Linked DNA regions of Homo sapiens. The protein of the gene in region 1 purifies or fractionates together with the protein of each later gene. This does not show direct contact. Each region holds a gene or a part of one and is shown in the gene's direction. Other genes may lie near its edges.

The links.
Region 2: the proteins of RHOF (region 1) and EHD1 purify together in Homo sapiens (affinity purification with mass spectrometry, with the first as the bait; one study listed by BioGRID). This does not show direct contact.
Region 3: the proteins of RHOF (region 1) and TPM4 purify together in Homo sapiens (affinity purification with mass spectrometry, with the first as the bait; one large-scale study listed by BioGRID). This does not show direct contact.
Region 4: the proteins of RHOF (region 1) and GRWD1 purify together in Homo sapiens (affinity purification with mass spectrometry, with the first as the bait; one study listed by BioGRID). This does not show direct contact.
Region 5: the proteins of RHOF (region 1) and PFKP purify together in Homo sapiens (affinity purification with mass spectrometry, with the first as the bait; one study listed by BioGRID). This does not show direct contact.
Region 6: the proteins of RHOF (region 1) and RAP1GDS1 purify together in Homo sapiens (co-immunoprecipitation; 3 studies listed by BioGRID and IntAct, with this or other methods). This does not show direct contact.
Region 7: the proteins of RHOF (region 1) and PHACTR4 purify together in Homo sapiens (affinity purification with mass spectrometry, with the first as the bait; one study listed by BioGRID). This does not show direct contact.

What each region holds. Positions count from the first base shown.
Region 1 is NC_000012.12:121,787,189-121,790,688, reverse strand, and holds part of RHOF (rho-related GTP-binding protein RhoF), read left to right. Parts: exon of another isoform or gene 1-534; intron 535-3,500. UniProt on the Homo sapiens protein: Plasma membrane-associated small GTPase which cycles between an active GTP-bound and an inactive GDP-bound state. Causes the formation of thin, actin-rich surface projections called filopodia.
Region 2 is NC_000011.10:64,858,122-64,861,621, reverse strand, and holds part of EHD1 (EH domain-containing protein 1), read left to right. Parts: intron 1-1,285; coding exon 1,286-1,698; intron 1,699-3,500. UniProt on the Homo sapiens protein: ATP- and membrane-binding protein that controls membrane reorganization/tubulation upon ATP hydrolysis. In vitro causes vesiculation of endocytic membranes. Acts in early endocytic membrane fusion and membrane trafficking of recycling endosomes.
Region 3 is NC_000019.10:16,082,995-16,086,494, forward strand, and holds part of TPM4 (tropomyosin alpha-4 chain), read left to right. Parts: intron 1-3,428; coding exon 3,429-3,500. UniProt on the Homo sapiens protein: Binds to actin filaments in muscle and non-muscle cells. Plays a central role, in association with the troponin complex, in the calcium dependent regulation of vertebrate striated muscle contraction.
Region 4 is NC_000019.10:48,452,483-48,455,982, forward strand, and holds part of GRWD1 (glutamate-rich WD repeat-containing protein 1), read left to right. Parts: intron 1-225; coding exon 226-543; 3' UTR 544-3,500. UniProt on the Homo sapiens protein: Histone binding-protein that regulates chromatin dynamics and minichromosome maintenance (MCM) loading at replication origins, possibly by promoting chromatin openness.
Region 5 is NC_000010.11:3,074,048-3,077,547, forward strand, and holds part of PFKP (ATP-dependent 6-phosphofructokinase, platelet type), read left to right. Parts: intron 1-3,500. UniProt on the Homo sapiens protein: Catalyzes the phosphorylation of D-fructose 6-phosphate to fructose 1,6-bisphosphate by ATP, the first committing step of glycolysis.
Region 6 is NC_000004.12:98,418,384-98,421,883, forward strand, and holds part of RAP1GDS1 (rap1 GTPase-GDP dissociation stimulator 1), read left to right. Parts: intron 1-273; coding exon 274-408; intron 409-1,635; coding exon 1,636-1,761; intron 1,762-2,871; coding exon 2,872-3,011; intron 3,012-3,500. UniProt on the Homo sapiens protein: Acts as a GEF (guanine nucleotide exchange factor) for the Rho family of small GTP-binding proteins (G proteins) that stimulates the dissociation of GDP to enable subsequent binding of GTP.
Region 7 is NC_000001.11:28,467,240-28,470,739, forward strand, and holds part of PHACTR4 (phosphatase and actin regulator 4), read left to right. Parts: intron 1-3,500. UniProt on the Homo sapiens protein: Regulator of protein phosphatase 1 (PP1) required for neural tube and optic fissure closure, and enteric neural crest cell (ENCCs) migration during development.

The sequences.
Region 1 (3,500 bases):
CTGACAGACCCCAAGGAGGGGCACCCAGGGAGAAGAGATCTGGCTGCTCCCTGTAGGGTATCCCCCCGTGACCAGGGAAGGCTTGCTCATAGGAGGAAATCCCCTGGTCAGTGAGTGCCACCAGGGAGAGCCCAGGTCCCAGTGCTTGTCATGGAGCAAGGCCTGGAAGGTGATGGAATGAATGGGTAGTGGATCCGAATGCCGGAGATGATTCATCTCGGCCTGCAGGTGGACGGCTCTCAGGAGAACAGGACAGAAAGCCATGGCCAGGCGGCCACGTAGAGAGAGGCAAAGGCCAAGAGGGTGAGGGAATGGCCAAGCCAGAAATGAGTCTAGTAAACGTAGTTGTAGAAAGTTCTAGAACCCAATGGGCCACACACAGTGGCGGAAGGGGCATCTTCCCGACTGGTGGCCACCAGAGCTGTGAGACAGGGGTGGCTCTCAGAGGCTGAATTTCTCCACACCCAGGACCAAACGCTGGTCCTGGGCAGGGGCCGGACGCTGCCCACAGGGGCCCTCGTGGAAGGCCCGTGTGGCTGTCTCCCTCCTGAGGAAGTAGTTACAGACACCACAGCGGAGGGAGGGCAGATCGGGTGACGGGGCTCGCAGGGCTCAGAAGGGAAGGGGCGGGGGCCATGGCACTCACTGCTCTGTCGGCCTCACCGGGGCCCTGACATCCTCTGAGGCAGGAAGCTGCGGTGAAGTCTGAAGTTTCCTGGGCCGGGGGAGGCGGGGTGAGGTGGGCTGTGAAGACACAGACGGGAGAGTGAGCTCATCAGGGCCAAGGTGTGGGGTCCAGGGTTAGAGGGGCACAGGATGGGATAGGGGTTGCCCGGGGAGCGGTGGTCCCCTTTTCAGCCTGAGATGGGAACAGAAAGAAAATTGTTAGGCAATGGAGTAGGATTTGCTAAGACAAGGAACCAGGGACAGATGTGTGTTGTGAGCCCCAGAAGCACCGGAGGCCTGGGCTGAGACAAGGCTGGGGTCACCCAGAAGGTGGTCTCAACTCCCAGCTGGGGCTGCCCAGCCCCTGTCTCCCTGGGAAAGCACAGGTGGGCGGCCCCCAGCAGAGTGAGTAAAAGTGGGTTCCTCTTCTGGCAGCTTCACTTCTCATGCTGCCAGTACCCCTCCCTGACCAACGCCGCAGCTGGAGCTGGGGTCCACCCGCCCTGTGTGTCCTCCTGCAGATTTGAGGTCTTTTTTCCTCAACTCTGCTCTGGGCCTTAGAGACCCCTGTCCCTGGAAGCAGGACTTCCTTGGCAAAGCCTCATCCCACCAAGAAAATAGCCCTGTGTGCGGCATGAGCCTCCCTTCCGCCCAGCCCTGCCGCACCGCCTGAGTGCACGTCAGGACGATGGGCGGCTCTAGGGGGAGCCCAGGCCTAGAGACTTCCTCACCAGAAGCACGTGCATCCTTTGCATGTAATTCCTGGGTTTTTTTTTGAGGTGGGGAATGGTTAGAGACAGGGTCTCGCTCTGTCACCCAGGCTGGAGTGCCATAGCATGATCATAACTCATTGCAGCCACAGCCTCTTGGGCTCAAGTGATCCTCCCATGTCAGCCTCCCAAAGTGCTGGGATTACAGGTGTGAGCCACCACGCCTGGTCTACCTGGGCTGTTTTAACCTCTAAGCCCATCTGCAGAGGCTGGATGGGCCCCCTCTGTGACTACGGGCAGGTGACATGGACCCTTTCAGCCCTGGTATCATTTTAGGTAGAATGTGGAGGGTAATGGTATCACCTGGTGGCTGGGAGGCCCCTGAAGCTTCTGGGTCCAAAGATTCTGGGGTTCTGACCACCCACCATGCCAGGCTATTAACTTCTCCTGGAAGTTTCAACAGTAACCACAATAGCAGTCCTCCTGCCTCCCGGCACTGCCCCCCACTCCACCCCTGCCCCTGCACTGCTCCCGCTCTAAGCATTGCCTCCCTTCTCCTGGGCTTTCACCTTCCAGATTAGGGGGAGGGTTATCACTGTTATCACCCCCTCTCCCAGATAAGGAAATTGACACCCAGAGAGGGAAATGTGGGCGTCAATTCGAGATGTGGAGGCTGCCCTGAACAGTCCTGCCCAGAATGTGCATGAGTGAATGGAACCTGACCCTCCTGACTCATATGAGAGAAGGTATTTATTAATAGTACGCTCCCCCATCCCCAAGTGGGCATGGGGTTGGTGCACACGGAAGTAGTCCTCTGCAGGCCTGGTCCCCCCACCACCCCCACGCCCCAAAGGCCCACACTGAATTCTAGGGAAAGCTGGGTTGGGCAGAGTCAAGCCAGGAAGGCAACCTGGAGGAGGTGCTGGAGTCGGAGCTGGCTGCCTCTCCCTTTCCAGAGGCCCTCTTTCTTGAGAGGGCTGACATTTTTCCTCACCTGGTCAGGGCTGGGACAAGTAGGGTGAGGATTCCTTCCTGTTTTCTGGGGTAGGCTAAGAAAAAAAAATACTCCAGTAAGGTCCTCTGTTATTTACAAAGCTTCCCCTTAGCTGTGTGGCCTGGGGCAAGTCACTCCAGCTCTCTGTGCTTCCGTTTCTCAGCCTGTAAAATGGGGCCAACAATAGTGTCTACCTTGTAGGGCTTTTGGGGGAAAGATGAGTTAATCCAGGTGAAGGGCTTTGAGCTAGACCTGGCATGTAACACAGTGGTACACACCTGCGGCCCCAGCTCCTCAGGAGGCTGAGGCAGGAGGATGGCTTGAGCCCAGGAGGTTGAGGCTGGAGTGAGCTATGATCACACCACTGCACTCCAGCCTGAGCAACAGAGCAAACCCCGCCCCCCCCCCCTTTTTTTTTTTTTTTTTTTGAGGCAGAGTCTCACTCTGTTGCCCAGGCTGGAGTGTAGTGGTTCAATCTCTGCTCCACCTCCCCAGCTCAAGTGATTCCCCTGCCTCAGCCTCCCAAGTAGCTGGGATTACAGGCATATGCCACCACATCCGGCTAATTTTTGTATTTTTAGTAGAGACAGCGTTTCACCATGTTGCCCAGGCTGGTCTTGAACTCTTGACCTCAAGCGATCCGCCCGCCTCAGCCTCCCAAAGTGCTGGGATTACAAGCATGCGCCACAGCGCCCGGTCTAGACCATGACTTTTATATGAGAGAAAGAGAGTCGATATTAACCATCTTTATTATGACTGTCATCAAGGCTCGCTCACTTTTCACATCTCCATTTCACAGATGAGAAAACTGAGGCCCAGAGGTTAATTCCCGGTTGGGAAGGCTGGGGACAGCTTCCTGGAAGAACTGGTGCTTTTAGAATGGCCTGGCAGGCAGCTGACCTTGGGGACTGGTTGGCCTCTGGCTCACAGGGTGCTTGTCTCTGACCTTGACAAAGGCCCCCTCCACCACTTGCGTTCTTAACAGGAAGAACTGTCCCCACCCAGCGCACCTCCCAGGGTGGCTGCTTGAATGAACACAGGTCAGGAAGTGGAATGCCCTTGCCAAGGCTGCAGGGCACCTAAAGCCAGAGAGATGACGATTAACCCTCTTCAACCACTCCTTCCTTTGA
Region 2 (3,500 bases), on another chromosome or scaffold:
ATACAAACAGGTGGTGGGCCAGGTTTGATCCCTGAGCTGTAGTTTGCCAACCCTTGTTGCAGAAAATAAGTGAGATTCCTGCAAAATGGGGAGCCTGGCACATCAGCACTGAAAAAGTAGCAGCTGCAGTTACTTTTGCAGGCGCCTCTTGTCACTACCGTCCCAGGGCATACAGCAGGCAGGTGGCAACACTGGAGTCTATGTTCTACCCTCTGTGCTGTGCTGAGCACAGTGCTGGGTCTCCTCCTCACTCTCGCCCTCCTCTGACCCACCTTAGAGCTTGCACTGTGGGACGACCTTTGCATTAGCACCTGTTTATGCCAAGTGCTACATGGGTTGGGGAGTGTTATGGTGGGGGCAGGAATAGGGGAGATAATCCTGCCCTCAGGGTGCTGTGCTGTCTAGATGAACACCTAGGAATTTTTTTTTTTTTTTTGAGACGGAGTCTCGCTGTGTCACGCAGGCTGGACTGCAGTGGCACAATCTCGGCTCACTGCAACCTCTGCCTCCTGGTTTCAAGCAGTTCTCCTGCATCAGCCTCCTGAGTAGCTAGGACTACAGGCATGTGCCACCACACCCGGCTATTTTTTTTTTTTTTTTTTGAGATGGAGTCTCACACTGTTGCCCAGGCTGGAGTGCAGTGGCGCAATCTCAGCTCACTGCAACCTCTGCCGCCCAGGTTCAAGCAATTCTCCTGCCTCAGCCTCTCGAGTAACTGGGATTACAGGTGCCCACCACCATGCCGGGCTAATTTTTGTATTTTCAGTAGAGACAGGGCTTCACTATGTTGGCCAGGCTGGTCTTGAACTCCTGACCTTGTGATCCACCCACCTCAGCCTCCCAAAGTGTCGGGATTACAGGTGTGAGCCACTGTGCCTGGCCTTTTCTTTTTTTTTTTTTTTTCGCGACAGTTTTGCTCTTCTTACCCAGGCTAGAGTGCGGTGGCATGGGCTTGGCTCACCACAACCTCCACCTGCTGGGTTCAAGCGATTCTCCTGCTTCAGCCTCCTGAGTGCTCGCGCCACCCTGCCCGGCTAATTTGTGTATTTTTAGTGGAGACAGGGTTTCACTATGTTGGCCAGGCTGGCCTCAAACTCATGACCTCGTGATCCTCCCACCTTGGCCTCCCAAAGTGTTGGGATTACAGGCGTGAGCCACCACGCCCGGCCTATAGGAATTTTAAAAACTATCTCAGGCTGAGAAATACCAGGCCAGGTTGGAGATGAGAGCCATCAGAGCAGCAGGTCCCTTGGCGCCCCTGAGCTCTCCCTTCTCTTCCCCCCAGGCTATGACTTTGCAGCCGTCCTGGAGTGGTTCGCGGAGCGTGTGGACCGCATCATCCTGCTCTTCGACGCCCACAAGCTGGACATCTCCGATGAGTTCTCGGAAGTGATCAAGGCTCTGAAGAACCATGAGGACAAGATCCGCGTGGTGCTGAACAAGGCAGACCAGATCGAGACGCAGCAGCTGATGCGGGTGTACGGGGCCCTCATGTGGTCCCTGGGCAAGATCATCAACACCCCCGAGGTGGTCAGGGTCTACATCGGCTCCTTCTGGTCCCACCCGCTCCTCATCCCCGACAACCGCAAGCTCTTTGAGGCCGAGGAGCAGGACCTCTTCAAGGACATCCAGTCACTGCCCCGAAACGCCGCCCTCAGGAAGCTCAATGACCTGATCAAGCGGGCACGGCTGGCCAAGGTAGACCCTGGGGTGAGGGGAGCAGCCTATTGCCAGGCAGGGCCATGGGGCTCTGAGACTGGCACTCAGGGCCCCAGGATTGCCCGAGACCCTTCCCAGCTCACTTCACAGGCAGACCTGCACTGCGCTGTTTCCCTCTATAGAAACCAGTCTTTGGTCAGCACCCGCGTGCAGCCTGCTCTTAACTAAGATTCTCTACCCGGCCTCCCTCTAAACCTGTTCTGTTTGTGGTTTATACCCCATCTACTTTCAGGAAGGGTTTGACTGTGCTTACAACACAGAAACAGCACACAGGAAGTTACCGCTGAAGCAAAGGAGGCAGCCTCAGAAATGGAGTGTTGGGGGATAGAGCTCTAAGGCTTGTTGGCTTCCCTCTAGGGTTTTTTGTTTTTGTTTTTGTTTTTGAAGCGGAGACTCGCTCTGTTGCCCAAGCTGGAGTGCAGTGGCATGATCTCGGCTCATAGCAACCTCCACCTCCCAGGTTCAAATGATTCTCCTACCTCAGCCTCCCGAGTAGCTGGGATCACAGGCACGCACCACTATGCCCAGCTGATTTTTGTATTTTTATTAGAGACAGGGTTTCACCATGTTGGCCAGGCTGGTCTCAAACTCCTGATCTCAGGTGATCTGCCCACCTCAGCCTCCCAGAGTGCTGGGATTACCCCTCTGGGGTTTACTGAGCCTGAAGTGCACTCAGCACAGTGCTGGATGCCGGGTACTGGCGGGGAGTGACACACAGCCCCTGTCCACTCCTCAGCCTTCATGGGGAAAGCAGAGCACGCAAACAAAAAATAAACATCAGTTATTTGTGTCGTCTCGGAGCGAGCACAGGCTGCTGCGGGAGCTGGCGCTAGGGGCTGTCCCAGTGGAGTAGAAGGGCTGGGGGGGCCTGGCAGGAGCTGAAGCTTAAGCTGTGACAGGAAGCAGCTCGTGAGGAGACAGGGTGCCAGCCTGCAGCCCGGGGAGCACTGTGCATGGAAGCCAAGGTCACGCTGAGGCAGTGTCAGTTCAGCAGGCCTTGCAGACCATCCTTAGGTCTCCTGGCAGCCCAGGCCTGGTGGCACCTATCAGCAGCCTCTGAATGGCCAAAGGGTTTGGAATCTCAGTGGCTGACCAAGTACTTGAGTGAGAGCCGGTGTGGGTGGGGCCAGGAAACAAAGGTTAATGCCACCAGCGGGCCCTTCCAACACAGAATGACAGAACACATGCCCTTGGCGTGTCTGACTTTGGATAGCACCCTATCGTGAGCCAGCCTAGACGAGTCACCATGAGTGACAGTCCCGGCTGTGGTTGGGGTTGACCCCGTGGACAGGAGTGTTTGACACAGATTGTCTGAACAGCTGAGAAGTGACCAAGCCCACATTTGTATCAGCAGGGCACCTAGCTATTCTTTCAGGCTCTTAGCACAGGGCTCGGTTGTTTCAGAAATAGGCTCCAGCCAGGCATGGTGGCTCATCCTGTAATTCCAGCACTTTGGGAGGCCAAGGTGGGTGGGCGCATCACCTGAGGTCAGGAGTTCGAGACCAGCCTGGCCAACATGGCAAAACCCCATCTCTACTAAAAAAAATACAAAAATTAGCCGGGCGTGGTGGTGCGTGCCTGTAATCCCAGCTACTTGGGAGGCTGAGACAGGAGAATCACTTGAACCCAGGAGGGAGAGGTTGCAGTGAGCTGAGATCACACCACTGCACTCCATCCCAGGTGGCAGAGCAAGACTCTGTCTCAAAAAAAAAGAAAAGAAATAGGCTCTGGCCAGGCATGGTGGCTCACGCCTGTAATCCCAGCACTTTGGGAGGCCAAAG
Region 3 (3,500 bases), on another chromosome or scaffold:
AAAAAAAAAAAAAAAAAAAAGCAGAGTACTGTGGAGAGGAGGAAAGGAAACTTGGGATGCACAGGTGATTGTTAGCAGAGCTGTCAGGCTTTAGGCTTTTGGACGGTGACAGCTATTTCAGGGACAGTTGCAAACCAGCATGGTTAATGTACTTGCAACTGACCATGCACCAGGTGCCGTGGCTCACGCCTATAATCCCAGCACTTTGCGATGACGAGGCGGGTGGATCAACTGAGGTCAGGTGTTTGAGACCAGACTGGCCAACATGGTGAAACCCCGTCTCTATTAAAAATACACAAATTAGCTGGGCGTGGTGGCGGGCACCTGTAATCCCACCTACTCAGGAGGCTAAGGCAAGATCCCCCAGCTTGAACCCAGGAGGCAGAGGGTGCAGTGAGCCAAGATCGCACCACTGCACTCCAGCCTGGGCAACAGAGTGAGACTCTGTCTCAAAAAGAAACTGACCACGTTCCTCACCCGCCCATGGTATCTGTGCTGCAACCCAGCCACCAGTAGGGTGCCTTCTCCTCGGTAGCCAGATCATTCTCTGGCACGCCTTGGCACAGGCTCTCTGGAAGACTGAGGGTAGATTGTGTAATTCACAGAAGCAGCAGTCTGTGTGTGGTGGAAAAGGAGTTCCTTGTGTGGCAATGGTGTGGGCCCGACCAGTGATCATCGCGTCTGCCCCTCATTCACACCGGAGTTCTCACTTGAGCCAGCCACCATGCTTTTGCAGTATAAACACCTCCCAAAGATTCATTTCTTTTTTTTTTTTTTTTTTTGAGACAGGGTCTTACTCTATCACCCAGGCTGGAATGTAGTGGTGCGATCACAGCTCACTGCAGCCTCGACCTCCTGGGCTCAAGCGATCCTCCCGCCACGGCCTCCAGAGTTCCAGAGTAAAGCTGGGACTACAGGCGCATGCCATCATGCCCAGCTAATTTTTTTTTGAGACAGAGTCTCGCTCTGTCGCCCAGGCTGGAGTGCACTGGCGTGATCTCAGCTCACTACAAGCTTCACCTCCTGGGTTCACGACATTCTCCTGCCTCAGCCTCCCAAGTAGCTGGGACTACAGGCACCCGCCACCACACCCGGCTAATTTTTTTGTATTTTTAGTAGAGACAGGGTTTCACCGTGTTAGCCACGATGTTCTCAAGCTCCTGACCTTGTAATCCACCTGCCTTGGCCTCCCAAAGTGCTGGCACGCCTAGCTAATTTAAGATGCATTTCTGGTTGTGCTGCTGTGACCACTAACCAGAGATTAGAAACCAGCTAAGGAATCTTGGAGATTGCATGTCACCCAAGCTGGAAATTTCTTCCCAAGTAGTGGAACAGCCAGGGCAGAGGGAACAGACGCTACTGCAGACTCTGCTTCAGCCACTGAATCAAGGGAGAGAGTGGCAGCTCCGGCAGCCACGGGGCAGTGGAAGGACCCAGTCACGAGAGTTCCTGGCTGTGCCTGTGGCCTGGGTTAGCTGCTGTTCACAGTCAGACCAGCCTGGCTGGATGCTGACGTTGAGGGCTCCCATATTGGCAAACCAAGGGAGGCTGCGAAGGCCAGTCTCTTGTTTGCACCATGTCCCCAGAGGCCTTTGGTGACACCCCTGTTAAAGACTGCTGTGTCTCAGTAGAAAGAATTATATACTTGAAGCTTGGGGATCTAGAGTCAGCTTCTACCACTGGCACTTTCTATGGAGCCTTAGGCAAGTCACTTTGATCTCTTGGGTACTACAAGGGGTTTTGGGGCAATAAATAACCCAGAGAGCTTGCTCACATGCTGAGGGTGAGACCTCGTACAGGTGGGGGAGGGTGTTTTGAGACTTAGCTGAGAACGGGTGACACCCCACGTGAACATATTTATTGGACAGCAAGAAGCATATGGTCTCTGTGCTGGGTGGGAATGATACATATCAATGACACATTATCCCAGGCTGGCCTCTTCTTTTCTTTTCTTTTCTTGTTTTAAATACACAAGGTCTTGGCAGGGTGCGGTGGCTCACACCTGTAATCCCAGCCCTTTGGGAGGCGGGCGGATCGCTTGAGCCCAGGAGTTTGAGACCAGCCTGCGCAACATAGTGAGACCCCATCTCTACAAAAAAATATTAAAAATTAGCCAGGCATGGTAGTGCATGCTGGTAGTCCCAGCCACTCAAGGGACTGAGGTGGGAGAATCACCTGATCCCAGGAAGGCAAGGTTGCAGTGAGCTATGATTACACCACTACACTCCAGCCTGGGCAACAGAGTGAGAACCTGTCTCAAGAAAAAAAATAAATAAATACACAACGTCTTGCTCTGTCACCCAGGCTGGAGAGCAGTGGTGCAATCACGACTCACCGCAGCCTTGAACTCCTGGGCTCAAGCGATCCTCCTACCTCAGCAACATTGCAAAACCCCCACCTCCACAAAAAATTTTTTTTTAGTTTAGCTGGGTGCAGTGGTGCACACCTATAGTCCCAGCTACTCAGGAGGCCGAGGCAACAGGATTGCTTGAGCCTGAGAGGACAAGGCTGCCGTGAGCTCTCAGGGCACCACTGCACTCCAACCTGGGCAACAGAGTGAGACACCATCTCTCAAAATAAAAGAAAAAGAAAGGGGGCACAGACTCTGGAGTCAGACTGCCAAGGGCTGAGCCTCAGCTCTACCACTTACCAGCTCTGTAACCTTAAGTTACTTACCCTCTCTCTATGCCTTAGTTTCTTCATTTGTAAAATGTGGATAATTTACCTGCTCCATAGGGCAGTTGTGAAAGTGAAGGCACTTAGAAAAGTGCCTGGTAGTAAAGATGAAGGGAGGCTGGGCGCGGTGGCTCACACCTGTAATCCCAGCACTCTGGGAGGTCAAGGCGGGCAGATCACTTGAGGTCAGGAGTTCCAGACCAGCCTGGCCAACATGGCGAAACCCCCTCTCTACTAAAAATATAAAAGTTAGCCGGTCACGGTGGTGCATGCCTATAGTCCCGGCTATGCTGGAGGCTGAGACAGGAGAATTGCTTGAACCCAGGAGATGGAGGCTGCAGTGAGCTGAGATCACACTACTGCACTCCAGCCTGGGTGACAGAGCGAGACTCCATCTCAAAAAAAAAAAAAAAAACCAAGATGAAGGAAATGTGTGCACAGAGTTCCATCTTTGCAGTGTGTTACAGTGCTCAGTAGATTCAGAGACTCATTTAGATGAGAGATGGGACTAGGGGTGGTGTCTCACGCAATTAGCCAGACATGGTGACGGGTGCCTGTAATTCCAGCTACTCAGGAGGCTGAGGCAGGAGAATCGCTTGAACCCGGGAGGTGGAGGTTGCAGTGAGCTGAGATCGTGCCACTGCACTCCAGCCTGGATGACAGAGCGAGACTCCATCTGAAAGAAAAGATAGATGAGAGGTGGGTGGAGGGGTGTGAGTGAACGGCCGTCCTGATGAGATTGCTCCTTGCAGAGGAATGAAGGTGATAGAAAACCGGGCCATGAAGGATGAGGAGAAGATGGAGATTCAGGAGATGCAGCTCAA
Region 4 (3,500 bases), on another chromosome or scaffold:
TCTTTGCAGGTGAATCACAGTTCCCAGCAACCCCTGGGCTGGTCAGCCTTCTTAGCAGCCAGAATTACCCTGTGTCCCTTTCCTGGACTCTGGGCTTGTGAGGGCTTAAGGGGTGGGGCCCTGGCTGAACCCTGAGGCTGGAGAAGGGTTGGGGCTTCTGCCTGGGTCCTCCCCAGAGTCAGGCTGAGGCATTCAGAGCCCGTTCCTCCCATCCTCTCCCTCTAGTCTGGTTCCCCAGTGGCCACCTTCAAGCAGCACGTGGCCCCCGTGACCTCCGTCGAGTGGCACCCCCAGGACAGCGGGGTCTTTGCAGCCTCGGGTGCAGACCACCAGATCACACAGTGGGACCTGGCAGTGGAGCGGGACCCTGAGGCGGGCGACGTGGAGGCCGACCCCGGACTGGCCGACCTCCCGCAGCAGCTGCTGTTCGTGCACCAGGGCGAGACCGAGCTGAAGGAGCTGCACTGGCACCCGCAGTGCCCAGGGCTCCTGGTCAGCACGGCGCTGTCAGGCTTCACCATCTTCCGCACCATCAGCGTCTGAGGCGTCCCACTGGCTCTGATCTTGCTTCCTGCTTGGAAACTGAAGTCGAATTGGGCTCCCCTGGAAGGGGTTCATTCAGGTCTGTTGACTGAGACTGGCCGGCCTGTGGGCTGCCGTGATGGATTCTGTTTGACGTATTGTTCTCTAGAAGGCCTGGCTCTGATCCAGTGACCCCTCTCACCAAAGAACTCGGTTTAACCAGGGCTCTGTAAGACCACTCCCACCCAGAGACTTGTGTGGCCTGGTGTGGCCTGTGTGTCGGATTCCTTCCTGTCAGCTGTGACCCATTTGACCTGTGTCCCCAGAACCCAGTTTTTTGTTTGTTTGTTTGAGACGGAGTCTTGGTCTGTCGCCCAGGCTGGAGTGCAGTAGCACGATCTTGGCTCACTGCAACCTCCGCCTCCTGGGTTAAAGTGATTCTCTCAGCTCAGTCTCCCAGGTAGCTGGGATTACAGGCATGTGCCACCACACCCCGTTAATTTTTGTATTTTTAGTAGAGACGGGGTTTCACCATGTTGGCCAGGCTGGTCTCAAATTCTTGATCTCAAGTGATCTGTCCGCCCCGGCCTCCCAGAGTGCTGGGTTGGGATTACAGGCGTGAGCCACCGCGTCCGGCTCAGGACCCAGTTTTGGCTGCTGGTTCCCAGCAGGGGACTCGGGGGATATACAGTGGCTGCACCAAATTGGAGGTGTGGGTTCCTCCAACACAATTTGCTTCTGCCCGTTGTCTTCCTGCCAGCTGGGTTTGGCCAGGATTTCTCCGTGTGGGGGCTACATGCGACCCTCTCCCCTCCTCCCTGACTTTAGAGGCTGGTGCTGTGTCGGGAGGAAGGTCAGGGCTCCTGAGCAGCAATAAAGGACCAGGAAGAGGCCTGAGGTGTATTTGAGACTCTGGTCCTTTGGCCACAGCCCTATGAGGAAACGGGGTGTGGGGGGAGTTTGGGGGTGGGGAGGAATTTGGCACCAGCTGCCCCCAGGCCGCTAGGCTGGGGGAGGCCACTGGGAGTCCAGTGCAACCCAACCTTCCGCCCACTGGGTGCCGCCGCGTTCTGCCTTCTCTAAGTGTCCTTCCATCTGGAACTCACTCTGGCTTAGTGAAAGGGGCCTCATCCCTGACCCCCACCAGCTTATGAAGGCTTCATCTCAGGGAACTCTGGACCCCCCATTTCTCCCTCCGTCCATCTCCCCTTTATCACGTTTCTTTCTTTCTTCTCTGTGTCCCCCTCTTTCAGAGTCTCCCGTCCCCCACTGCCAGTCTCCCTGCCCCCTAGTCGCTGTCTCGCTCCTCCGCCGCTGTCTCCTGTCCAGCCTGCCTGGGCTGTGGCCCAGCCGCTCTGCCTGGCTGGCCTCCCTGGCTCCCCCTCTGCGGCTCTGAGCTAGCCCCACCCCCGGCCCCCCTCCATCCAGCCTCTGATCCATCTGTGGACTCCGAGGTCGGGTGCCCGTCACACGGCCCCTGGGACCAAGGACAGACTACAGCCCCTCAGCACCCACAGAGGCTTCCCCTCAGCCCTAGCCGAGGAGCCCCCAGCGGAGGGCATGGGGGTGGGCCGCCCCAACAGGTACGTGCCTCCATGCAAGGCACCGCTGAGCCATCCCCTCCTGCTCTGCTGCGTCGCCCCCATCCACCCCTGCCCCAGCATCCCTGTCCTCAGCTTGTCCCCTTCAAGAAGGCCTTGTCTTCCCATCAGTGACAGGCTCAGCGCCAGGAGAATCCACCCCCAGGTTCAGTGCCTCCAACTCTCACCCCATCCCCATTTTATGCATTTTCTCACTGGCTTCCATCCTTTCAGAGAAACCCTCTCAGTCTGTCTGTCTCTGTCTCTGTCTCTCTCCCCCATCTCTGTCTCTCCCATCTCTCTCTGCCTCTCTCTGTCTTCACAATTTCATCTCCCCATGTCGCCATTTCTTAAAACATTTCTTTTCTCCTTTTCGTTTTCCCAATTGCCCTGTCCGCCTCTATCTTCTCTGTCCCCCTCCATCTAGGTCTCTGTCCCCCCCTCTCTCTGGGTCTCTGTCCCCCTCTGTCTCTGAGTCTCTATCCTCTCAAGGTCTCTGTTCCCCTCTCTCTGGGTCTCTGTCCTCTCTCAAGGTCTCTGTCCCTTTCTCTCTGGATCAATGTCCCTTTCCTGCTGCCCTCTCTGGGTCTCTGTCCCCCTCTCTCTCAGGGTCCCTGTCCTGCTTGGTCCCTGTACTTTTTCTTGGGGCACCCTCTCAACACCCCTCCTCCTGCCTATCTCTGCATCTCTTTGTCTTTCTGTAGTCTCTGCTTTCCAACCTGCTGTCCAGCCCCCACCAGTAGGTGGGGAGTGGTGGGGAACACCCCTGGTTTCGGAAGAGTGAGAGTGTTGATTTGGGAGGGTGAGGGTGGGGCCTGGGGGCGGGGCTTCTTGGCCTCAGATTAGACAGTGACTTTGACACGAAGTTGAAGCACCTTAAGCCCTGTATCTCCTTTATATGGAAACATTAAGCTGCTCTCGCAGGTCAGGTGGAGGATCCCTTTCCCTCCCGCCCTGCTTTTGCTAGGGGAGGGGGGTGCCCTGAGCCTGAGTCGCAGCCAGCCTGGGAGCTGGGCCATGTTGGCCGCAGATGGCCCCCTGGTGAAGGTTCCCGTTGGCTTTGGGAAGTAGACAACGGGTCTGCCTCACGGGGCTGAGGTGGGACTGGAGGATTTCGAGGGCAGAACTCTGGGAAGGAAAGAAAGGCTTAGGACCCAACCAGCATTCCCCCTGGCACTGCGGGGGCCTGGCCAGCTCATGGCGTTCCCTGAGCCTGTTCCCCAACTGTGAAAGGGGGTGATGATCTTCACCTCCCGGCATCCTGAGCGGCCAAGGTGAGCAGTGGGGTCTGAGAGTCCAGTGGGGGCTGTGGGCATGTCGGGAGCTCATCACGAGGCCTCGTACATACCAGGTGTGTTTGAAACCAGAGTGCTCTTGAGAAGACTGTGGTTTGTCACT
Region 5 (3,500 bases), on another chromosome or scaffold:
CAGGCTGGTCTCGAACTCCTGACCTCAAGTGATCCACCTGCCTTGGCCTCCCAAAGTGCTGGTATTACAGGCTGGAGCCACTGCACCCAGCCTTATTTCTGTGTTTCTGTAATCATTGTGCATGTTAACAGACTGCCTTGGGTGAGTCAGGACAGGATTTTGGCAAAAGAACCAGGCCCTTTCTGCCTGGAGCTGTCACTCCTGTGGTGAGGTGCGGGTACGACGTGCCTGTAGCCTGACCTGAGAGGAAAAGCTCCTGTCTTATGAAAGGGCCCAGGGGAACCTCTGGTTGGGGCCCTTTGACCTGACCTGACAGTGAGGGAGGAGTCCGTAGAGGAGAGTGGCCCAGTGGAGGACTTTGGCTTTGCCTTGGGTGAACTGGGAAGCAGGTGGAGGGAAGCAGACTGACTGTCTCCGATAAGGGTGGCTTTGTGGAGAGGAGAGGAGGGGAGGGGAGGCCACAAGTTTAGGGTATCACAAGGAGCAGGCCACAGATGGAAGGTTATGGGGTGGGGCACGTGGCAGGGCAGCCCTGTGTCCACAGACACATCCCGCCAAGGGGACCCAGAGACTTGAGTGTGTCAGGGCTTGGGGTGAATGGGCACTCAGCTGTTACAGCTGGAAGGTAGAGCATGTGAGCTCCAACAGACACAGGCAGGTGGGGGTTAAAGGAGAATCTTCATAGCAGTGCTTAGAATAGCAAAAAGTGGGAAAACCAGCAAAAAACTATCAATAGGAGATTAATTAATTCCATTATGGCACCTGGAATGTGCCGAGACCAGCTCAGTCGGGGAGACCGTAACCCAGCGGCGCTAGAGGAATTAAAGACACACACACACAAATAGAGGTGTGAAGTGGGAAATCCGTGGTCTCACAGCCTTCAGAGCCGAGAGCCCAGAACAGAGATTTACCCACGTGTTTATTAACAGCAAGCCAGTCATCAGCATTGTTTCTACAGATATCAAATTAACTAAAAGTATCCCTTATGGGAAATGAAGGGATGGGCCAAATTAAAGGAATAGGTTGGGCTAGTTAACTGCAGCAGGAGCATGTCCTTAAGGCACATATCTCATGCTACTGCTTGTGGCTTAAGAATGCCTTTAAGCAGTTTTCCACCCTGGGTGGGCCAGGTGCTCCTTGCCCTCATTCCCATAAACCCACAACCTTCCAGCCTGGGCGTTAGGGCCGTTATGAACGTGTCACAGTGCTGCAGAGATTTTGTTTATGGCCAGTTTTAGGGTCAGTTTATGGCCAGATTTGGGGGGGCCTGCTCCCAACAGAATGGAAGGAATTTTTGTCAGCGTTTAATAAGGAGCTTTGTGCTGGTCGAAAGTCAAGAGGTACACAGTATACTCAAGGGCAGTATTGAAGAGCCGATTCCAGAGCGGCTTCCCTCTGGAGCCAGTGGGGCAGTTTGCAAATCCAGGCAGATCAGCTTCTTGGAGGTTTCTCCAACGGGAGAATCTCCCAAGAGTGAGGCTTGCATGTGGGTGGCCTGTGTTATATATGCAATTTTAAATGATCTAGTTGCCGCATTAAAGAAAGGCGGGGCAGGGGGCCGGGAGTGGGGGACTCTGGGTGCCAAGACTCAACATCTGTAATCCCAGCCCTTCAGGAGCCCAAGGCAGGTGGATCACTTGAGCCCAGGAGTTTGAGGCCAGCCTGGGCAACATGGCAAGACCTAGTCTCTACAAAAAATACAAAACAATTAGTCAGGCGTGGCGGTGCACACCTACAGTCCCAGCCCCGTGGGAGATTGAGGTGGGAGGATTGCCTGAGCCCAGGAGTTGGAGGCCGCAGTGAGCTGTGACTGCACCAGTTCACTCCAGCCTGGGCAACAGAGTGAGACCCTATCGCAAAAAAAAAAAAAAAAAAAAGTAGTGAACCCGGGAAGCGGAGCTTGCAGTGAGCCGAGATCGCGCCACTGCAGTCCGCAGTCCGGCCTGGGCGACAGAGCGAGACTCCGTCTCAAAAAAAAAAAAAAAAAAAAAAAGTAAAAACCGGTAAAAGCAAAAAACTATGTTTTATATTCAATCCACTATTTTGATAACAATCAATTATTGTAGATTATTCATATTTTACACTGTTTTCCGTAGTAAGTCTTTGAAACCCAGTGTGTAAAGAAGCTTAAAGCACATCTCCATGTGGACGGGACGCACGTGGCCAGCGGCTCCTCTGAGGGACAGTGTGGTCACGCAATGGGTGGCGTGTGCTGCCTGTATTTAGAAGGTCCCCATGTGGGTGTTTTTGCGAAGGCTCTGAGGGATGTGCAGGGGAGGGCCGACACTGTCCCAGCCACGCAGAGGACCCTGGAATGCAGCATGCTGCCGCCGCGCCCCCGCCCCAGCCCCTCTGCTACCTGAGCTCTTTCCCAGATGTCCATTTGGCTAAACTCCCTCAACTTCTTCCCTTTCCTTCTTTCTCCAAACGTCACTCTCAGGCAGGTCTGCAGGCTCTCCGATTGTCAATGGCAGCCCCTCCCTGTCCTCCACACCCTCAACACCCCCCACCCCGCTTGTTATTTTTCTCCTTAGCACTTACGGCCATCCATCCATGGGCATCATGCATTTGTTCACTGTGTTTCTTGCTTTCGGGTCTCTCCTGATCGGAACAAGCTCTTCCAGGGCCAGAGGCTTCCCATCTTGTCACTGATGCATCCACACAGAGCCCAGCAGAGGTGGCACTTGGGGCACCCGAGCTGGACAGTGGGTTGGTGGTTGAGTGAAGAGCCCTACAGATTTATCTCAAGCCCTCCCCTGACCCTACTAGAAGACACGGTGGTCTGCACAGTCCAGGAGGTCAGAGAGGCCCCCCAGTTCGATGACTTTGAACTGGCAGGGGTGGGGAGGGAACAGCACCTTGACAGAATCTGCCTTTGGCATCCCACCTCCCCATGCCTACATAATCCCTACATTATCAAAGGAAAGACCCCTAGAAGGAACTTTGGCAGCAGTAGTGAGATCAGCGCGGTGTAAGCTCATTTTCTAACAAAGCAGCGGGAGGAGTCGGCAAACTGACTTTATTTCTCAAAAAGAATTTATGCATTGAAATTAACAAGTGAGTGATCAGGAGTGTGGGAAAATTCAGGAAAAGTGGCTCAGTGCTGTGAGAGAGGGCGAGGCAGGGAGCTTTATTACTCCAGACAATGGAGGAGGTAAAAGATAGACCCAGATTATTTCATTAGAGTTCATCTATTCTTTACTTTTTTTTTTTCTTTTTTTTTTTTTTTTTTTGAGATGGAATCTCACTCTGTCACCAGGCTGGAGTGTAGTGGCGCAATCTCGGCTCACTGCAACCTCCACCTCCCGGGTTCAAGCGATTCTCCTGCCTCAGCCTCCCAAGTAGCTGGGACTGCAGGCGCTCACCACCATGCCCGGCTAATTTTTTTTTTTGTATTTTTAGTAGAGATGGGGTTTCACCCTGTTAGCCAGGATGGTCTCGATCTCCTGACCTCGTGATCCGCCCACCTTGGCCTCCCAAAGTGCTGGGATTACAGGCAT
Region 6 (3,500 bases), on another chromosome or scaffold:
GTGTTTCTACTTCTGATATATTATCTGGCTCTAAACTAAAGATTTTTCTGGTAATTTTCTGATTTTAAAACTTTTATCTAGTTTAAGAATTTTTTTTAACACTTCTCACTCAGTAAACAGAAAAACCTATAAATCTGATGGGAGAAAGATTTGGAATTCATTTTATTGTATAGCTCCATTTTCCCTAATGTAGATAATAGCCAGACATCAGTATTATAAAGTATTTATAGATATTTTAAAGAGGAAGAAAAAGATGTGTGTTTTTTTTTTCAGATGCAAATTGTATTCATATGGTAGACAATGGGATTGTAGAAAAACTTATGGATTTACTGGACAGACATGTAGAAGATGGAAATGTAACAGTACAGCATGCAGCACTAAGTGCCCTCAGAAACCTGGCCATTCCAGGTAAGACTTAAGAATAGAAGGCAGCTGTGTACAAAATAAAATCCATCATTTGGGGAAGCTATTAACTGTATGTGATTTGTGAACCTGCTCTGATGAAGAAAATTTAAAAAAAAATAGTCTTCACATTGTTCACATTTTTTCATGCTAATAAATGGAGATCATATGTTAAATAAGTTTTGTGAGACTGTACAAGAATAATCTTTGCCTTCATTCAGATATCCTGTTACCTTTTGCGAACTGTTAGATTTTCATCATGTTTTATAGTTAAGCTTTTTTAAGTTTGAGATGGGGTCTCACTCTGTCAGCCAGGCTAGAGTGCAGTGACGCAGTCCTGGCTCACCACAGCCTCTACCTTCTGAGCTCAAGTTATCCTCCCACCTCAGCCTCCTGAGGAACAGGGACTACAGGCATGTGCCACCATGCCCAGCTGATTTTTTTTTTTTGTAGAAACAGGATCTCACTATGTTGCCTAGGCTGGTCTTGAACTCCTGGGCTCAAGCAGTCCACCCACCTTTGCCTCCTAAAGTGCTGGGATTACAGGTGAGAGCTACTGCACCAGGCCTTAGGCATCTTTAGTTGAGGTAGAATAATGACATCAATTAACAGAGTCCACTCAAGAATGACTTTCAGTTGTTGTTTTTCTATAAGCAGATGTACAATTTTTTTAAAATAGCCTTAATGTGCCTTTGGAAGTCATGAAATCACTGTATTATGGAAAATACAACAAAAGATAGTTAAAACTATTCTTTTATCCTACTTTCTAAAAATAAATTTCTGATTAGATGAAATAGTACAATTACATGATGATCCAATCCATTTGAATTCATTTGGTTTACATAGGATAGTAACATTTATTAATGTCTATAACATTTATATTAACACAGTTGGATCAAAAACGGAATTGTGCTTTTTGTTGTAAGAGGGTAACATTTTCAGATTTCCTTTACAAACTATGTAAGTAAGTGTTTTGGATTGGATCTAAAAAGCCATGATACTGTCATAAAAATTATTATATTGTCTGTTATCCGCTTATACACAAATAGGATACGGACACACACATAAACAACTGAATTCCATTCTTAAAATTGACAAAAAAGTGACAAGATTGTTTCTAAATGGAAAAATAAAACATGGATCTTAAAGATACTTAATAAACCTGTATTGAATTGAATGTTTATCAACAGGAATGCTAATACCATTTTAACCATAGTCTCTCTTTTTCTCCAGTTATAAATAAAGCAAAGATGTTATCAGCTGGGGTCACAGAGGCAGTTTTGAAATTTCTTAAATCTGAAATGCCTCCTGTTCAGTTCAAACTTCTGGGAACATTAAGAATGTTAATAGATGCACAAGGTAAAAGAAATGTTTTCCCCAACTTGCATTTTTCATATGATAGTCTTAATGTGCCTCTAGTTGAAAAAGGACTTGTTTTTAGCTTTTAGGATTATGTAATCATAAAAAATAGCAAATAAAAGATTTAAAAGTTGGTTTTGGAACTCCATTTGTTAATTTTTATGCTTGTTATAATTATTTATTTATACATATTATTTATTTATTTATTTATTTATTTATTTGTTTATTTATTTATTTTTGAGACAGAGTCTTGTTCTGTCACCCAGGCTGGAGTGCAGTGGTGCGACCTCAGCTCACCGCAACTTCCGCCTCCTGGGTTCAAGCAATTTTCCTGCCTCAGCCTCCTGAGTAGCTAGGATTACAGGCATGCTCCACAACTCCTGGCTAATTGTTTTGGAATTTCACTAGACATGGGGCTTGTTGCTCAGGCTGCTCTTGAACTCCTGGCCTCAAGCGATCCACCCACTTCAGCCTCCCAAAGTGCTGGGATTACAGGTGTGAGCCACCATGTCCAGCCTATAATTGACTTTAAATAGAAATTATACCATATCTCTCCTTATTAGTACTTATAGTCCTGGTTTTAGGTTGCTTTATTCATCAGTTTCGGCAGGGGGTGTTGTGTTTTGGCATTCTATACCCATTTTTACCTTGGCTTTGAAATCAAATTTCATTATTGTGACAGTCAAAAATTTTTTAAATTTGTCTTCCAGACAGGGAGAGCATTTTTCTGTTTGCAGAAACAGCAGTCAGAACCACTCCTAGGAATGAATTATGTTTATTTACTTATTTCTAAATTTTAAACCCTTTTCTATATTGATTGCATAGAGTCTTTCTAAGAACCCTGCATTATAGTCCGCCAGAGCACTAACAGACTAGCAGGCTTAACCAAAAGAGTATGAAGTCATTTGTTGTTGTATTTTCTATAAAATTTCACAGTGTTACAGAAGAAGGCAAATAGCCCATCACATAAGGAATATTTGCAGTTCTAGCTTTAATGAAATTGTCGTGCTGTGTTTTTTTAGACGTCCTTCACACTCTCAAATCTGTACGAATTATTTCAACTGATTGTCTGTTAGTGATTCATTCCTTGGTTTGCCTTCTTTCCTATAGCAGAAGCTGCTGAACAATTGGGAAAGAATGTTAAGTTAGTGGAGCGTTTGGTGGAATGGTGTGAAGCCAAAGATCATGCTGGTGTGATGGGGGAGTCAAACAGACTGCTGTCTGCCCTTATACGACACAGTAAATCAAAAGTAAGTTCCAGAGGAAACTGTTCACTAGAAAACTTCAGAGTGTCTTTTTCAGAAACCCAGCATTGTAGGTCCTAACAACTGGGATAATATTTACCTGAAAGTATTGTGAAGATTCAGTGAGATCATGTATATAATGTGCTTAGCTGATACATGGGATATAGGAAACACTCGGTAAATGGGGGTTGCTGTTGTTGCTGCTGCTATTGTTGTTATTACTTTTACCACCACCGTTATCAGCATCAGTGTCAAACATTCTTTGTGCCAGGCATTGACCATGCAGCCTACTGATATTTAGAAATTAAATGGTACCTAGATAGTATATGATGTCCAGAGCTCACAGAGTTAGAAAAAAATCCATTCTTGTGGCTGGCTGTGCCGCTGTCTGGCACATGGTAGATAACCAATAAATGAACAAATGAGCTATTTTAAAGATCACAATAGTGAGTACCCAGGCCAGCAGTTCAGCAGCTGATTTAGTATCTAGATTAT
Region 7 (3,500 bases), on another chromosome or scaffold:
AAGTCATGAAACTGAGGCAGATGGCCATAAATGTAAACATCACTAAGATTAGATTTAAGTTTTGGGGGTTTTAACCTATTTTTTAATCTAATATTTAATCTGTTTTTCTAAAACAATGATTCCAAAACACTATACATATTTGTGTGTGTGTGTGTGTGTGTGTGTGTGTGTGTGTGTGTAATTGGACTGGATATGTGAAAACCATAACAGATTCCACCTGCATGGAATTATCTGTGGCACTTGCTGAAAAATTAGAATAATGCCTCAGCTCACAAGGGGCAAGGCAAACTTTTCAAATGAAAATTTTTAAATCTACTTAAAACTACCTATGCCTTCCATAAGCATTAATGAGTCTAGTAGATAAAAGGATGATTCTGTAGATGCCAGTGGAATTTGGGATTCAGTGTCTGGCATAGTTATCTTCACAGGGAACTGCAGAAGCTATTACTTAAATTGTTCTGATAAAATCATGTTTTATCTTGGGAGAATTAAGAATGCTATTCTTATGTTAAAATAAGTGATGGTAGAGAAAGCAGGGAATATAATCAGTAAAATTTGTATGGGTTTAGTAAATTTTTTGCATTTACCCAAAGTTCTATTTAAGTCTACTTTCTTTATATAAATGCACAATTTCTTAGAAGAATTTTCAAGAAAGGGAGAGGAAAGCTAATGAGTGCTTCAAAGCTAATAAAAATATAGTTTTTTCAGGAAAAATGATACTAGGCTTAGTATTGCTTAAAGTTCTTGTTCACGATTGAACGAATGAATAAAAACTATACTCATTAAATATTTAATATCACCATGTTGGGTGGAGTGATTCAAACCTTGAAAAACAGGCTTAGAATATTTTATGAGTATGACAGTTTGGAGTAGCTTGATGAAAACAGGATGAAGTTGTTATTACCACCACTTTGGATGGATAGTGTCATGTTGACTTATCTGTGAGGAACTTGGGGAGCTTTCACATACTTATTTTCAAAACTACCTTGTGCTGCAGGAAACCAATTTTATCTTTTCCATAGGTAGGGCAATTAGAACATGAAGACATTGTGACTCATTCAAGGTTGTAGGCCAGGCGCAGTGGCTCATGCCTGTAATCCCAGCACTTTGGGAGGCAGAGGCGGGTGGATCACCTGAGGTCAGGAGTTCAAGACCAGCCTGGCCAACATGGTGAAACGCCATCTCTACTAAAAATACAAAAAATTAGCCGGGCATGGTGGTAGGCACCTGTAATCCCAGCTACTCGGGAGGCTGAAGCAGGAGAATTGCTTGCACGTGGGAAGCAGACGTTGCAGTGAGCTGAGATTGTGCCACTGCATTGCAGCCTGAGCAACAAGAGCAAAACTCCATCTCAAAAAAAAAGAAGAAGGTTGTAGTTAGTGAAAGATAGAAACTGAACATAGGCTTTTCAACTCTCAGGTCCAGACCTCTGTTCCTTACAGTAGTGTTTGCAAACTGGTGTTCTCCTCAGGATCACCTAGAAAGCTTATGATAACAGACTGCTGGACACTACCCGTAGAGTTTCTGATTTTAGTAAGCCTGGGATGGGCTTGAGAATTTGCCTTTCTAATAGGTTCCCAGATGACACTGATGCTGCTCTCCAGGGAGCACACATTAAGAGCCTCTGCTCTACACCAGTGGCATACCACCCTTTTCAAGTTAAGGCAACATATAAAATGATAATTTGTGTATGATACCCTGGACTAAACTGCAGAGCTCATTCTTAGCTTGAGGTAAATAGCCCAAAACAATAGACCTTGTAACTGAGGAATCAGTATTAGTCCATGAGGGGTCCTCAACAAAAGAAGAAAAATAGAACAGTTCACAGAGCATTTCTTAGAGCTAAATAGATTTAATTTAAAGGACTCTCTTTTATTCTAAAATTACAACCTTCCTAATCCTTTGGTGTTAAAATGCCATTTCTTTCACAAAAGGATTATGATCATAAATGGTTTACTTAATATCAAGCCTTATTTGGAAATCTTAGAAAATGACAACCTCAAAAAAACACTAGAAAAAAAACCAACAATCTGAGGTTGATCAAGATTTTTGTTATTGTTTTGGTCACTGAAATCCAAAAGTTTGGAAATCATTGCTTCAGAAGTACTACTGTCTTCTCATCCATATAACATGGAGTATTACGACTAAGGAAAAACCACCAGCAATAGCTGAACGGGTGAAAGGGAATTATTACCCATCCCAGAAACACTCTGAAATTTTTCCACAGAACTACAGCCAGATGCTGTTGTCAGGGTATATATACCAGAATTTACTTCCTTAACATATATGCCTTCCTCAAATTACCAAATAGAATTTATTTTATTAATTCAAAAGTAAAAATATTCATTTATGGTCTCATCAGGAATGAGTTTTGTTGTAGATGGAATAGCTAACAGCTATTTTTAGAGAATCAGCAAAAATCCAATCTTTCCAAAAATATCTCTTTCACTGCTCCTAAAATTCACATTTTTAGAATCTTTTTGTGTGTGTATGCAGTGTTTTTCTAGAAAGCCTTTTTTAAAATTTATTTATGGGGCCAGGCATGGTGGCTCATGCCTGTAATCCCAGCACTTCGGGAGGCCGAGGTGGGCAGATCGCTTGAGGCCCAGAGTTTGAGACCAGCCTGGGCAACATGGTGAAACCCCATCTCTACTAAAAATACAAAAAATGATCTGGGTATGATGGTGCATGCCTATAATCCCAGCTACTCAGGAGGCTGAGGCAGGAGAGAATCACTTGAACCCGGGAAGTGGCGGTTGCAGTGAGCCAAAATTGCACCACTGTACTCCAACCTAGGCAACAGAGCGAGACTCTGTCTCAAAAAAAAAAAAATTATTTATGATGAGAGACATTAAAACATTACAAAATTAGGCCAGGCACAGTGGCTCAATGCCTATAATCCCAGCATTTGGGGAGGCCGAGGTGGGAAGATCACTTGAGGCCAGGAGTTCAAGACCAGCCTGAGCAACGTAGCAAGACCCCATCTCTATAAAATATTTAAAAATTAGCTGGGCATGGTGACATGTGCCTGTAATTCTAGCTACTTGGGAGATTGAGGTAAGAGGATTGGGTAAGCACAGGAGTTCAAGGCTGCAGTGAGTTATGATTGCACCACTGCACTCTAGCCTGGGTAACAGAGCAACATCCTGTCTCTAAAAAAAAAGAAAAGGCTAGGTACAGTGGCTCACACCTGTAGTACCAACACTTTGGGAGGCTGAGGCAGGTAGATTACCTGAGCCCAGGAGTTTGAGACCAGCCTAGGCAACATGGAGAAACCCATCTCTACAAAAAATACCCCCCCCAAAAATTAGCCGGGCATGGTGGCACATGCCTATGGTCCCAGCTACTTGGGAGGCTGAGGTGGGAGGATCACCTGAGCCCAGGGAGGTCAAAATTGCAGTGAGCCGTGACTGCGCCACTGCACTCCAGTGACACAGTGTGAGACCCTGTCTAAAATAAATTAATTTAATTTAAAAATAAAAATAAATTTAAAAAGAAAA